Homo sapiens: one gene and its partner. The protein of the gene in region 2 interacts with the protein of the main gene of each other region in a pairwise test. Each region holds a gene or a part of one and is shown on either strand. Other genes may lie near its edges. The genes, in order: PEX7 and PEX5L.

What was found.
Region 1: the proteins of PEX5L (region 2) and PEX7 interact in a two-hybrid assay, tested with the Homo sapiens proteins (one study listed by BioGRID).

Annotation. Positions count from the first base shown.
Region 1 is NC_000006.12:136,820,713-136,824,631, reverse strand, and holds the start of PEX7 (peroxisomal biogenesis factor 7), read right to left. Parts: upstream 2,041-3,919; 5' UTR 1,967-2,040; coding exon 1,837-1,966; intron 1,735-1,836; exon of another isoform or gene 1,269-1,734; coding exon of another isoform or gene 1,253-1,268; intron 1-1,252. UniProt on the Homo sapiens protein: Receptor required for the peroxisomal import of proteins containing a C-terminal PTS2-type peroxisomal targeting signal. Specifically binds to cargo proteins containing a PTS2 peroxisomal targeting signal in the cytosol.
Region 2 is NC_000003.12:179,806,206-179,810,124, forward strand, and holds part of PEX5L (PEX5-related protein), read right to left. Parts: intron 3,464-3,919; coding exon 3,266-3,463; intron 2,233-3,265; coding exon 2,067-2,232; intron 1,627-2,066; coding exon 1,469-1,626; intron 1-1,468. UniProt on the Homo sapiens protein: Accessory subunit of hyperpolarization-activated cyclic nucleotide-gated (HCN) channels, regulating their cell-surface expression and cyclic nucleotide dependence.

The DNA of each region.
Region 1 (3,919 bases), on a different chromosome or scaffold from region 2:
AAAAGTTATGTTTACTTTTTATAGAGACCAAGGGGGAAAATCTCTTCTATTTAAACATGACTGAATTTTTTTTTTTAAATACCAATTCCCTTTAAAGAGTTTTTGCATAAGATTTTAAGTAGCATTACAGGCCAGTCACAGTGGCTCACGCCTGTAATCCCAGCACTTTGGGAGGCCAAGGCAGGAAGATCGCTTGCACCCAGTTCCGGACCAGCCTGGGCAACATAGTGATACCCTGTCTCTACAAAAATAAAAAATCAAAAATTAGCCAGGTGTGATGGTACATGCCTGTGGTCCCAGCTACTGGTGAGGTTGAGACAGGAGGATCATATGAGCCCAGGAGGTGGAGGCTACGGTGAGCTGTGATTGCACCACTCTACTCAACCTAGGCAACAGGGTGAGACCCTGTCTCTAAAGAGAAAAAGAAAAAAGAAAAAAAGAAAACTACTACCATTATAGACTCATGAGTCTTCAGTCTAACTGGTGGGCCATGTAAATCTGAATGTGCAAGCACTAAGAGCTAATAATGAAAATAAATCAAGTATTTCTCTGAGTTTTAGAAGTAACATTTTTTTCTGCTGTAGGACAAAACAAAAAAATACAATAGACCACTGACATTATGAAATGAGTTTTTGCATCTCGCTTCAGTGCGTATAATAGCTAGGACATGAATTAAGGCAAAAGCGAGAATGAACCTACGCCTTTTCATCTAGTCCACGGACTAGATGGACTCTTTTTTTTGAGACGGAGTTTTGCTCTTCTTGCCCAGGCTGGAGTGCAATGGCACGATCTCGGCTCACCGCAACCTCTGCCTCCTGGGTTCAAACTATTCTCTTACCTCAGCCTCCCGAGTAGCTGGGATTACAGGCATGCGCCACCACGCCCGGCTAATTTTGTATTTTCAGTAGAGATGGGGTTTCTCCATGTTGGTCAGGCTGGTCTGGAACTCCCGAACTCAAGTGATCCGCCCACCTCGGCCTCCCAAAGTGCTGGGATTACAGACGTGAGCCACCGCACGGCGCTTGGCCTTTTTTCTTTTTAAGACGGGGTCTCAGTCTGTCACCCAGGCTGGAGTGGAGTGATGTGATCTCAGCTCACTGGGCTGGGGCAGAGTGATGTGATCTCAGCTCATTGTAGCCTCAACATCCCGGGCTCAAGCGATCCTCCCGCCTCAGCCTCCTGAGCAGCTTTAACCACAGGCTGAGCCAATGCGCGCGACGGGAGACAATTAACTGGAGTCTGTAACACCTACTTGCGAATGTGTGCATTCCTCGTTAGACAACTACAGGTAAGAACTGAACTTGATATATTTCATGGTGTCACCCGTGGGACTCCAGGCGTCCATTCAGGAGCATCGTCCTTAGGAAGGCCAGCCCGCAGGTCGCAGCTCAGTGCTCGAATGCAGACTGGGAATTGTGGGCCAACTCGCGAGCCCTGGGTCGGTTCTGGCTCAGACCGTCTTCCCCGTACTGCTGTGCCGAGCGGACCGATCCAAGGGACCGCGCAGGCTCCCCCGGCTCTCCCTACGGGGACGTGTGCCTGGGCGTGTGACACGTGGCGGAGGCAGCGCGGTCTCAAGGAACAAGGACACGGGCTACTAGGCTACACGTATATGCACTTGCACACAACTGGAAGATCGACTCCTGCTTCAGACCAACTCCTCGCACTCGGCAAAGAAAGGAGAAGCGCCGACCAGCGCCTCTTCTGCCCCCTGGCGTGGACCCGCGGAACCGTCTACGCTCAGAGGGGCTTTCCCTCGAGCGCGAGGAACTGGAGCCCGGCTGGCCCCCGCCTCCGCCTCCGCCCCCCGGCCCCAGCTGCGCGGCGCCGCCTCACCCGCGATGCCGTAGTGCTGCGCGGTGGCGCAGGCCAGGCGGCCCGGCAGGTACGGGGAGAACTCGGCGGCGTAGCCGTGGCGTCCCGGCGTCCGCAGCATCCGCGCCGCTCCACCGCACACCGCACTCATCCCGCCCGCCGCCCCCGGCCCTCGCTGCCCCGGCCGCGGAAGCCGTTCCGAGTCGGAGGCACACTGGCGCGGTTAGAGAGACCAGGCAGACCGGACGGAAGTGTGGGCCCCGTGCCCTGTGTTTGAGATTCTGATTGGTCCGCACAGGAAAGGGCGTTGACTCCGACGGAGACCATTTTTGTTTTGGGTGAATCCAAACTGAATTGCGCCTGCTGCAAAGATACAGATCTATCAGGGGAGTGATCCAGGGTTAGGTATTATTAATAATTACGACAGCTTTTGTCGTTGCATCTCAGCCTCCTCTGCGGTGCTATCTGGTTTTTATTTCATTGAGCGTTTGGAAGACTGGCATCAGGAACTTTTCCTGATGATTATAAAGTGAGAAAAGTTACAGCCGACTCTGAAACCACGCAGCGCGTCCAAAATTGCGTGCTGCGTTGCCCAAGGAAACTGGAAGCAATGAGAACTTAAGTCCGTGGAGTCACTGCGGTCTTTAGGAATAAGAGCGTGGGCTGGTGGGCTACTTTCACACTGTAACTGGAAAAGATGAAACACCAACTCCAAACCAACTCCCCATGCTTGGCAAGTGAGAAAAAGGAGCTGGCCAGTTCTAATGAAGCTAAGCAAAAAAGCAGCACATCATCATATACAACTTTTTTAAAAAGTATTACTATACATGTATATATTGTATGGTAATAAGTGCTCAGATGCTGGTGCTCATTCATTCATTTATTGCCAGGCATATACTATGTGGAGAATGACCAAATATAATTTATCTGCCAAACCAAGATACTTTTGAGAGTAAAGAGGGTGTAATTATTAAGCCAGGTCAACAGGCACAAACCAAGTCGTATGATCATCTTAACCATATACCAAGAACAGTACTAGGCATTTGGGATTCAAAATAATGGGATATGGTCCATGGCCTCAAGAGATTAGAGAAGAAGACTAAAAGAGAAGTCATGTAATTAGTTAAGTGTAATCAAAATACTGTAGAGGCTATGATAAATTTATATGGGGTATTTTTAAAAGGTGATTGTCCGTGCCAGAGGTATGGAAATTGCAGGAAAGGCTGCAGAAGAGAGATAAGTCTTTATGGTGATTGCACACAGATGAGTAGGTTTTCTTTAGGTAGACAAGAAGATGGAGATCTTTGTAGGAGCAGGAATAACATGAGCAACCCAGGAGATTTAAACCAGCATGATCCATAGGGGGTCGTGGCTGCCAGGACTCAGCCTGGCCAGATGGAAGGGATACGGTGAAAAAAATATTGGGTGGGGAGACTGTAGAGTGTTTTACTGGGGCTAGATCATGAAGAGTCTTATATACCATACTAAGAGAATTGGATTTCTACTGTAAACAGTGAAAAACAGTGGAAGTTTTCTAATGTGAGAAATTAAATGACCAAGGTTTTATTTTAAAAAGTCCTGCAACACTAATATGGAGGATAGAGTTTGGAGATGGGGAGGCCAGTTAAAAGACTTTTGCAGGCCGGGCGCGGTGGTTCACACCTGTAATCCCAGCACACTAGGAGGCCGAGGCAGGCGGATCACTTGAGGATCCAGACCAGTGTGGCCTCTATTATTTTGGATTTTTATCATATGTAGTCACTGGAATGTATGCTGCATGAGGGCAGAAATTTTTGCTTGTTATGTTCGCTGTTGTATCCCAAGGACCTGGTATTTAAGCATTCAGGAAATGTTGAGTGAATGCAGCCTAATACAGTGCCTAAATGATCAGTGTGTTTTTCGTAATACTACAAAAAGTAACCTGGAAACATTCTGGAGTTTATTGAAATGCTAAATAGGCGTTAATAAAATATCAAAGTAAGCAAACATGAAGCAGCTGGGACCTTGGCAAAGAGTTGTATATAAAGAGTTATCCAATCTAAGCTAAAAATAGTGTGGTATCTCTGGGAGGGAGAAAGGCTGGTTCCAGCTGGGGTAAACTATT
Region 2 (3,919 bases):
AGGAAATCTGGCCGGGAAAATCAGATGAAGCCAGGAATGAAGTTAGGATACAAAATAGACATCCGCAGGGCTTGGACAGCTGATGTGTAGGGGGGTGGCACAGAGTCAGCTCTGGGCTTTTGCACAGCTGATGTAAACAGGGCCTCTGCAGTGGCACATTTCACAGTGTCCATAAAATAAAGCAAGCCGCTTGGTAAGGAGTCATTCAGCTCTTCCTGGTTTTGATCTGAGAAAATTCTCTTGACACAGTTAATCTAGTGACTAATGCTCTTTGTAAGAGTTTTTTCGTACAGTGCAACAACTATTTTCTAGGATCTCAATGTTTGCCAGTGGCAAAATGCACCAATGCAGTTCAGAAGCAGTCATTCTTTAGATGTCAAAAGAGTGAAATCTAGTTATACAGTTCTCTGATGACTTACTAAATAAATAATAGTAATAAGGATGATGATGGCAAAAATAATAATCATCATAATAAATGCCTGCTAGGCATTGAGCATCTGCTCTGTGCTAGGCAATTACATTTAACCTGTACAAAATCCTGAAAAATAATCATTACCTCTTTCTCTCTCTTTTTTTAACAAGTGAAGAAATTGAGGCTAAAAATTATAGACCAGAGTCACAAAACCGGTACATGGCAGAGCTGTGATTTTAACACAGGCTTGTCTGATTATTAAAGCCTGGCTCTTTCAGAGAATGAGAAAGGGTTTACATCTTTTGTGGGGTTCAAAACTAACATTTAGTTCTTTTTCCAAATTATGAAAGTAATACCGGTTTATTTAGAAAATAGAAAAAATGGGAAAAGAAAGAAGAAAAAAGATTACCCATACTTTCATTATCTGAAAGAAATAAAGGTCATTTCTAGGCCCTGGTAATGGGAAAAAGAAAGAGAGGACGCAGACCTTAACGACGAAGGACGAGAATGAGAAAGGCATTTTAAACTATAAGCCCAGTTGTGTTTTTTCTTTTCTCCCAACTAACTTGATTGGTATATTAGGTTTAGAAAACCTGGACTCTTAGTTTTGCTTTGCTAAACACTGATTCTGGGACTTTCTGAAAGTCATTTTGCCAGGTCCCCTTGCCCACACCCCCAAGGCTCTTTTTTCCTTAAGTGGAAAATGAAAGATTGACGGGTACTATTTCTTGAAGAGTTGCCCTTGGGGGTGTTGAAAATGCTGATAACTTGTCCTAATCCAGGCCAACTGAATCAAAATCTCAGGGGCCAGGAATTGGGAATCTGCATTTCCCAAGATGCGGAGCCAACTGCTGCTCTCTAAAGATTGAGAACCAGAGAAGCACAGGGTTCCTGCTCAAACAGGCCTTGGGATCTGAAGGCTCCACATTCACCCTTAACGGCAGGAGGAGGAATACTCCTACCAAGGCAGGCATTTTTACTTGGAAACAACCTTTCAGATTATTCGACCTCAGTCCTGGGCATGGCCTTCATCCTTGGCCTGTTGCTGTACTTCACCTGTAGGCGCCCAGGTTGATGCAGCTTATTCCTAGGTTGTATCTGGACCGGATGAATCCTGGCTGAATCTCCAGTGCTCGCGTATAGGCCTCCACGGCTTCCTCGCTGCGGTCTCCGTTCGCCAAGGTCGCCCCGAGGCGGTTCCATAGTGAATAGTCCTGATGACAAAATCAGAACTTTCTAACAACCCAGTACAAGGCACAATGACAGAGCATTCCTGTATTTCTCTGCAGAGAAAGGAAGATGGCTAAAAATTTATGCAGTGCTCATGGATGGAGACCATGGCCAGGTGAATTACTAAAAAATCTTCACGGACAGTTTTGTCAAATGACTTTCACTCGTCAATGAACAGCTACCATTTGATGTTGTCATCAACAACATCAATTAGTGTTTCTATTTTAGGTATTTCAATATTAGTGTTTGTATTTCAGGTATTTCAATATTAACAGCCACAGTAGCACATTATTATTAGTACCCATCACTTTAAACCATTGGAGTCAGGGAAATAAAGTGCAGAAGAAATGTAGACGGTGTAGCCTGTGAAAACTTATTTGTTACAGAGAACGCTGTGGTTTCTTGCTGTGCTGTGCTGTCTTACCTCTGGCCGAACAGTTAAGGCAGCGTTAAATGCATCTATTGCTCTATTAAATTCTCCACTCAGGTGGAACAGAACCCCTAGACCTGTCTGCAGGTCTGGGTCGATCATATCTCCATTTTGGTGGGCAGCTTCCAGATATAATTCCTTCACCCCTTCCAGAACAGAGCTACAAGAGAAAAAAAAAATTAGATTTGTAATCCAAATAGTCAGAACATAAATGATTTACTGTTAAATCCCTTGACTGTATTTCAAGAAGTCTCTTCGTTACAGACTGGAAAATTTTGCTTAAAATACCTTAACTCAATGAGAGGACTATTAATGCTGAATGTTTTAAAATATGGTTGAATTTCATGAACTATTTTGTTGTACACGGATACAGACTGTGCTAAGTAAGGTCTTCACGAGGCGAGTTCTGTTGACTCTATGAGTGCCAATGTGGAAAACCCCACAGCTAAGTTTCCCAAGGCCTCAGTGAATAAGGATTTAACATAAGGATTTATTGCTGATAGAAAACAAAATTTCTAGGCCGGGCGTGGTGGCTCACGCCTGTAATCCCAGCACTTTGGGAGGCCGAGGCGGGCGGATCACGAGGTCAGGGAATCAAGACCATCCTGGCTAAGGTGAAACCCCGTCTCTACTAAAAATACAAAAAATTAGCCGGGCGTGTTGGCGGGCCCTTGTAGTCCCAGCTGCTCGGGAGGCTGAGGCAGGAGAATGGCGTGAACCCGGGAGGCGGAGCTTGCAGTGAGCCGAGATTGTGCCACTGCACTCCAGCCTGGGCGACAGAGTGAGATTCCGCCTCAAAAAAAAAAAAAAAAAAAAAAAAAAAGAAAACAAAATTTCTAGAAGACGAGACTTTCATTTTCCCCATTCCTAATTCTCAGGCTGGATAAAACTTGGAGCATTGGTATTTATTATACTTCACCTTGGGTGAATTCTGTGTCCAAAGCATTTGACTTTAAAATGTGGCACTCAGATAAATGTCTGTGAGTGCCCACAATGTAGATCATGTGCCCGAAGGTTGGCCCTGGTCTAAGCATTAATCTTTCTAACGAGTGATGCTCCTCCAGCAGAATACTGTCCTGCAAACCATTCTGGAGTGGGTGGTGTCTAGGGTGTGAGGCTCATTAGTTGCCCTTTAGGTGATTCATTGTATATATGGGTGTTTACTGCCAGCTGTAATATAACGAGAAGGATACCTATCAACTGGGGACTTAGACATCCGCCGGGTGAGGCCTGGAGATCCCTTCTTGCTTTTCACAAGGTATTTGTACTTTGGATTTTGCTTAATCCAATTCTTCAGAGCGTCACAGGCATCCTGCTGATGGCCAGTGTTAGTATAACTCACAGCCAAGGCCATCAAAGCTTTTAAGTTGTTGGGCTGTAATTCTAAGCACCTGAAAAAAAAAAAGAAGCCAATTTCAGATTTTTTTTTGAGCCACAATCTAACAGTTCTTCAGAAAATGTGGGGGGTCTTTATTAACTAAATACTGCAAAAGCATTGGTAAGCTTGCTTATGTCAAGTTCCTGGAAAGCACCATATTTATCCACATAAAAATGGAGACCTCAGCATATTTTTAAGAAAGTTAAAACTTACCCTAATGATTGCTAGGTTTGGTAATTTTAATAAGTAGCTTTAAAACTATGTGGCTTATCCCTGCACATGATTTATTAGTGCTTAATCTAATGAGATCTCATGAGAAATAGGGGATATCATTATTTTAATGCTGCTTTTTTTTTTTTTTTTTTTTTTTTTTTTTTAGACAGAGTCTCACTCTGTCACTGAAGCTGGAGTGCAGTGGTGTGATCTTGGCTCACTGCAACCTCTGCCACCTGGACTCAAGCGATTTTCC